Homo sapiens: one gene and its partner. The protein of the gene in region 1 purifies or fractionates together with the protein of each later gene. This does not show direct contact. Each region holds a gene or a part of one and is shown in the gene's direction. Other genes may lie near its edges. The genes, in order: ALDH18A1 and CIAO2A.

Region 1 (3,821 bases):
TCCCCACAAACTACTTTTTTGACTTCTGTCACATTAAATTACTTTTGCCTTTTTTTTTTTTTTTGAGACATGGTCTTGCTCTGTTGCCCAGACTGGAATTCAGTGGCACAATCTTGGCTCTCGGCTCACTGCAGCCTCAGCCTCCTAGGCTCAAGCAGTCCACCCACCTCAGCTTTCCTAGTAGTTGGGACTACAGGTGTGTGCCTCCAGACCTGACTAACTTTTGTGGATTTTTTGTTTTTTGTAGAGACAGGGTTTCACCATGTTGCCCAGGCTGCTCTCAAACTCCTGAGCTCAGGCAATCTGCCTGCCTCAGCCTCCCAAAGTGCTGGGAATGTGCCACCACGCCCTGCCTTTTGCCTATTCTTGAAATTTATATAAATGAGATCAAACAAAACACACGTTTATGTTGCCTGTCATTTGTTCGTTATGTCTGTGGCATTCATTCCCATTGTTGCATCTAGCAGTAGTTTTCTCATTTAATTGCTGGGTAGTGTTCCATTTACCTGCATATACTACAGTTCATCTTTTCTTCTCTTGATGAATATTTAGATTGTTTCCAGTTTTGGGCTATGTGGAATAAAGTTGCTGTGAACATTCTGGCACACATATATATTTGTTATAAAAGTAATATGACCATGTGGAGAAAAATTAAAAATCAAGAGAAAACAAAATGCCCATAATCTCAGTATCCTCTCACAGGCTCTTTAAGTCATTCTAATCCACATCCCAGGGTAGAAGTTGCCATCAGAAGTCATGAGAACCATGACTCCCTAGCAAGACCAACCCAACATTTCCTCAATGCTGTGAATAGAAAACCAACAGAGAAGCCACTCCCTTTTGTGATCTTCATGGCCTGGAGTAGTGTACTGCATTTAACCTCCATAGATACCCCTTTGTGCTGCTTCTGGCATTTTAAAAATTGTCTGCCCTGTATTATGGCTAGCAGTACCCTAGTGCTGCCTTCCCTACTTGATGCTGAGCTCTTTGACGGCATGCAGTGTCCTGCGTGATATGTGATGTGGAGCACAGCACCGAGTATATAGTGTTTGATAAGCATTTGCTGGACAACTTTTTGATTCCCATGATCGGGAACTTAATTTTGTTTTTAGAATAAGTTTTCACAGTGTCTCACTTAGTTCTCAGAGTGTACAGATGTTTATCTGTAAAAGGGAAGCTGCTGTTTTTATATTTTGTGTGGTCAGATGTCATCTTTATCTTTTTCTTCTTTCCTTCTAAAGGTGAATACCAGAGAAGAAGTTGAAGATCTTTGCCGCCTAGACAAAATGATAGATCTGATCATTCCACGTGGCTCTTCCCAGCTGGTCAGAGACATCCAGAAAGCTGCTAAGGGGATTCCAGTGATGGGGCACAGCGAAGGGATCTGTCACATGTATGTGGATTCCGAGGCCAGTGTTGATAAGGTCACCAGGCTAGGTGAGCTGGATGGGGTCTTCTCTTTCACAACGGAGAAATATTACATCCTCTGCAGCTCTGGATCATGTCAATGGAAACAATTCTTTGCTCATCTTCTTTCAGTCAGAGACTCTAAATGTGAATATCCAGCTGCCTGTAATGCTTTGGAGACTTTGTTAATCCACCGGGATCTGCTCAGGACACCATTATTTGACCAGATCATTGATATGCTGAGAGTGGAACAGGTAAGAGTTCCATAGGACTAGTACATTACTTCCTGTCTTAGAAGCCTGTGGAATTAGACCAGGCACAGCCATACCATATAAGGCAGTTTAAGAAACAATATTTTTTAATATCTTCTGTGTACAAAGTTCCATGCTAAGTAAAGTGTGAGTAAAACACAACCCCTGCCCTCTAGTAGTCGAACCAAACCAATACACAAATAGCTTTATTACAAAGTGGAATGTGTTGTGTGCTAAAGAGGGTTCAAAGGTAAGACAGACCACATGGCACTATGCTGACTGAACTGTTTCTGGCAACCTTATATATGCAAGGTGTTCCCAAGCATATATTATTTTTTGGATTTGATTTGAAAAGATGGTGCAGAAACGTTTCAAACCAAAAACTTATGTACATTCACTGCCTCCCCCCAGTGTCTTTGGTTACCAATATTAGTGTACTTAATGCAGTGATATTTGGGATTCAGTAATTTGTAGAATGTCTCCCTGGATTATGTTTTTACTATATTGTTAAGGTTGTAAACAAACCAAAAGCCAGTAAGTTTCAAATATAAAGTTGTGCTGTGTCCTAAATTCATGCCTGCAAGAAAATATAATAGATGCCCTCAAGGCAAAAATGGACAATCTGTTAAACTCTCTGCATGGATGCATTTTAAGCTTTAATTTCTGATGTCATAGTACACTTTCAGAGTTATATAAACCAGCATGGCAGTAGAGAAGGTGCTTGTTGGCCTTGGTTGCTTTGACTCTGAACATATGTCTCTTCCCTTCCATCCTTTGACTGGAAAGGAAGGCTCCAGTTAGCTTATAAATGTGGCATGGTCCCAGTGAGAACTGGAAAGAATTGTTTTAAAAATGAAACTGTACTCCATGGATTACAAGGAAGTTAGATCACATGGTCATTCATGTTCGGGGACCTTACTTTACTTTGGTAAGGAAGCCTGTTGATTGGGCACCTGTGTTTGCCAAGCACCACAGTGAACTGGATTAGACAGGAGGAAAGCTCTCCTTTAGCCAGGACTAAATCCCTCCCCAGACCTAATTTGAACACACAAGTGGTATCCTCAGTCATTAAAATGAGGATGGCCTTGAAATTCCAAATCAAAATGAGTCACTGTGTGTACTTCATACAGCACTTTTGGATGGCAGAAAGTAAAGCTAGAAGGATGACTTGCACAGGGATGGGGTTCCAGTCCCCAAGGAACACAGAAGAAGTGAGATCCCAGATAAGAAACAATGGCAGGGCCTCGGGAATCATGAGGATAAGGCAGACACCACTTATAACTTGAGCCAAGGCAAAAGCTTGATCCCAAAGAATCAAGGCATGAACCCTGTCCTGGGGATGTCTCAGAAAACAAGGTTTAAGTGGGATCCAGCTTGTGATTGGGATCCTCGGTGACCAGCCTCAGAATCCTTAAATTCCTCTAACCAGCAGCAGGATTAGAGCCAGAGCCTGGGGCTGAGCTGAACCTAGAGGTGGGGCCAGACTGACGCAGTTGGAAATCAAATGAGTAGCCACAGTTTCAGGTGCTGAAAGCACCTGACCAAGTACTGCTTACCTCTAAAGCAAACCTGGGACTTCGCTAGGGTACAGGGAGTAGCAATGTATATGTGGCACCTCCCTTTTTCCACACGAGTCTAGTGCCTAGGTACCATATGCAGGAACTGGGATCTTTATTGTCAAGTATTCATTTTAGGAAAATGCCAGAAGTCAAGCCCTTGTGTTGATAACCCACTAAACGCCTTGCACATTCTTTTTTATTCTTTTTTTTTTCTTTGAGACGGAGTCTTGCTCTGTGCCCCAGGCTGGAGTGCAGTGGCACAATCTTGGCTCACTGCAACCTCTGCCTTCCAGGTTCAAGCAGTTCTCCTCCTGCTTGAACCTCCCAAGTAGCTGAGATTACAGGCACCTGCCACCATGCCCTGCTAATTTTTTTAGTAAAGACGGGGTTTCACCATGTTGGCCAGGTTGGTTTTTGAACTCCTGACCTCAAGTTATCCACCCGTCTCAGCCTCCCAAAGTACTGGGATTACAGGCGTGAGCCACCATGCCCGGCCCACCTTGCACATCCTTAACGTTCAAGGCTTCCTGCTTCAATCCCTGTTCCAACTGTCTTGAGGGCCCATTGCTGGCAAGTGGCCAGTCAGATCATGCTGGAGGGAGGA
Region 2 (3,821 bases), on another chromosome or scaffold:
TTTTGTTTTTGAGACAAAGTCTTGCCCTGTCGCCAGGCTGGAGTGCAGTGGTGCAATCTCGGCTCACTGCAACCTCCGCCTCCAGGGTTCAAGCGATTCTCGTGCTTCAGCCTCCCAGGCAGTTTGGATTATAGGCATGTACCACCATTCCCGGCTAATTTTTTTTTATTTTTAGTAGAGACAGGGTTTCACCATGTTGGCCAGGCTGGTCTTGAACTCTTGGCCTCAAGTGATCCACTGCCTCGGCCTCCCAAAGTGCTGGGATTATAGGCATGAGCCACTGCACCCTGCTGTCATGGTGGTTGTGATTTTTATTTCTCTGATGGCTAATAATGTTGAGAACCTTTTCATGTGGTTTTTGGCCATTTGTGTATCTTTGGAGAGCTGTCTATTCAGATCCTTTGCCCATTTTAAAATAAGGATGTCTTTTTATTATTGAATTATAAGAGTTCTTTATATAGTCTAAATACAAGTCCCTTGTCAGATATGATTGGCAAATATGTTCTCCCATTCTGTGTGTTGTCTTTTCACTTTCTTGATGGTGTCCTTTACAGTACAAAAGTTTTAAATTTTCATAAAGTCTAATTTGTTTTTAATTTTTTAACTTGTGCTTTTGGTGTGATAATCTGAGGAAGATGTTTTTAACCCTACTATTGAGCAAGAATATGGATATCACAGTTAATTCATAGTAATTGGTTATCGCTCGTGAATGATTCGGCCTTGTCTCTTACTGCCTCTTGTAATTGCTGGGCAATTATGCCTTCTCTACCTGGCTGCTACCTAGCCTTTACACAGAGTACCCTGTCTACTTGGAGTTCCCTTCCTCCCATCTCATATGTTCAAATCCTACACATCTTTTTTGTTTGCTGTTGAGACAGGGTCTTGCTCTGTCTCCCAGGCTGGAGTGCAGTGGTGTGATCACTGCTTACTGCAGCCTCTATCTCCGAGGCTCAGCCTCCCAAGTAGCTAGGACTACAGGCGTGCACTGCCATGCCTGGCTAATTTTTTCTTAATTTTTGGTAGAGATGAGGTCTCTCTTTGTTGCCCAAGCTAGTCTCAAACTCCTGGGCTCAAGTGATCATCTTGCCTTGGCCTCTCAAAGTGTTGGGATTATAGGCATGAACCACTGGGCCTGGCCAAATCCTACCCACGTTTTAAGGCCCAGTGAAATACTATTTTATTTTCCATGATATCAGTCCTGATTTCTTTCTTCTTTTTAAGATGAATTTTTATTTATCTTTTAAATTTTTTTTTTTATTTTTTGTATTCACCTTTCCATACTACTAGTCCTGATTTCTGTAACTAAAGCTATTTCTTTTTTTGAATTGCCGTGGCTCTTTCTTTTTGTTTTTTTTAAAGACAGGGTCTCACCCTGTTGCCCAAGCTGGAATATAGTGGTATGATTACAGCTCACTGAACCTTTGATCTCCCAGGCTCAAGTGAGCCTCCCTCCTTACCCTCCCAAGTAGCTGGAACCACAGGTATATGCCACCATGCCCAGCTAATTTTATTTTTTGTAGTGACAGAGTCTCACTATGTTGCCCAAGCTGTTCGTGAACTCCTGGGCTCAAGCAGTCCTCCCGCCTTGGTTTCCCAAAGTGTTTCGGATTACAGGCGTGAGCCACTGCACCCAGCCCCGTGGCTCTTTCTTTGTCTTCTGATGTAGAGAGTGTCCTTTTCTAACTTGTGTTCTGTTTGTTTTTCATCTTCCCTCCTGGACTGTCAACTTCTCTCTCTTTTCTTTTTTTTTTTTTTTTGTTTGCGATGGAATCTCGCTCTGTCGCCCAGGCTGGAGGGCAGTGGTGCGATCTCGGCCCAGTGCAGCCTCTGACTCCTGGGTTCAAGCGATTATCCTGCCTCAGCCTCCCAAATAGCTGGGATTACAGGCGCATACCACCACACCCAGCTAAATTTTTGTATTTTTAGTAGAGACAGGGTTTTGCCATGTTGGCCAGTTTGGTCTTGAACTCCTGACTTCAGGTGATACACCCGCCTTAGCCTCCCAAAGTGCTGGGATCACAGGCATGAGCCACCATGCCTGACCAGCTAGCTGTCAGCTTCTTGAAGTCAAGATTCATATATGATACATCTCTGTGTTCCTGCTATGATCTTATACATATTTGGAGCTCAATAAATACGTCTTAAATTGAGTAAATTAATAAATTATTATACTAGTGGTTTATGATGCCCTGTAAATTTTATTTTTCATTTTTAACTGTTTTAATTACAATGTTTAACTTTTTATTTGAAATGAAAATAATGAAAGAAAAGAAATAAAATAGTGAAGAATAGTACAAAGAAATTCCATATATCCTTCACCCAGATTCAGATTCACTAATTGTTAACATTTTGCCACATTTGGTTTATCATTAATTTCTCTCTATATATGTACACACACATACACATATTTTCTGGAAATGTTTGAGTGCATTTGTAATGCCCCCTTACTCTAAATACTATAGGATGTATTTCCTGAAAACAAGGACATTCTCTTACATTACCACAGTATAAATTTCTAAACCAGGACATTGATACAGTACTGTCATCTCATCTACAGCACGTATTCCAATGGGTAACATCCTTCATGGCGGTCCCTCCTCCTGGCTCTGCTCCTCTCCCCCATCATACATTGCATTAGTTGCCATGTCTCTTTAGTCTCATTTAATTTAGAGTAGTTCCTTAGCCTTTATTTCATGATCTTGATATTTTTGAAGAATGTAAACCAGATATTTTATAGATTGTCCCTCAAATTGAGTTTTCTGATGTTTCCTGGTTAGATTCAGTTTGTGCATTTTTGGCAAGAATACTGAATAAATGTGTTCTCATTGCATCACATCAGAGGCCTATAAATTCAGTTTGTCCCATTATTGGTAACAGCTCCCCTCATCAATTGGTTACCCTGAAGTATAGTTCATATAGGAATAGCTGCATAAATGCTGCCTTTTCCCCTTTATCACTTTTAGAATAATGAGTCCTGTGTAATTTTAAACTGAAGTAAGTCAGTATAGAGTGATTCTATACCTGTTGCTTTGAGGTCTAGAATAAGAGTGTTTTGCTACTAGGAGAAAGGTGTTTTGTTTTGTTTTGTTTTGTTTTGTTGAGACGGAGTCTCGCTCTGTCACCCAGGCTGGAGTGCAGTGGCGCAGTCTCAGCTCACTGTAACCTCCACCTCCCGGGTTCAAGGGATTCTCCTGCCTCAGCCTCCTGAGTAGCTGGTAATACACGCCCGGCTAATTTTTTGTATTTTTAGTAGAGTTGGGGTTTTACTGTGTTAGCCAGGATGGTCTCGATCTCCTGACCTCGTGATCCGCCTGCCTCGGCCTCCCAAATTGCTGGGATTACAGGCATGAGCCACCACGCCCGGCTTGTTTTGTTTTTTAAAAAAAATTGGGGCCAGGTGCAGTGGCTCACGCCTATAATCTCTGTACTTTGGGAGGCCTAGATGGGCGGATCACTTAACCTCAGGAATTCAAGACCAGCTTGGGCAATATGGCGATACGCGGTCTCTACAAAAAAATAGAGACGAGGGAGGAGAGGGGTGGGAGTGTGGGAGCTGAGGTGGGAGGATCACCTGAGCCCAGGAAGTCGAGGCTGTAGTGAGACATGATCGCGCCACTGCACTCCAGCCTAGGCGACAGAGTAAGACCTGTCTCAAAAAAAAAAAAAAAAAAAAGATTGGACTAGATGACCTTTAAGGTCCCTTTTAACTATAATAAGTTATGATTTTTCTCACTCATGAGAAATGTTTATCTCCGTAGTAAATAAGTAAATAAAAATTAGTTCATATGTTCCAGTGTTCTCTGGAAAGTAGACGTCTTTAT

What was found.
Region 2: the proteins of ALDH18A1 (region 1) and CIAO2A purify together in Homo sapiens (co-immunoprecipitation; one large-scale study listed by IntAct). This does not show direct contact.

Annotation. Positions count from the first base shown.
Region 1 is NC_000010.11:95,611,582-95,615,402, reverse strand, and holds part of ALDH18A1 (delta-1-pyrroline-5-carboxylate synthase), read left to right. Parts: intron 1-1,241; coding exon 1,242-1,437; intron 1,438-1,539; coding exon 1,540-1,661; intron 1,662-3,821. UniProt on the Homo sapiens protein: Bifunctional enzyme that converts glutamate to glutamate 5-semialdehyde, an intermediate in the biosynthesis of proline, ornithine and arginine.
Region 2 is NC_000015.10:64,076,576-64,080,396, reverse strand, and holds part of CIAO2A (cytosolic iron-sulfur assembly component 2A), read left to right. Parts: intron 1-3,821. UniProt on the Homo sapiens protein: Component of the cytosolic iron-sulfur protein assembly (CIA) complex, a multiprotein complex that mediates the incorporation of iron-sulfur cluster into extramitochondrial Fe/S proteins.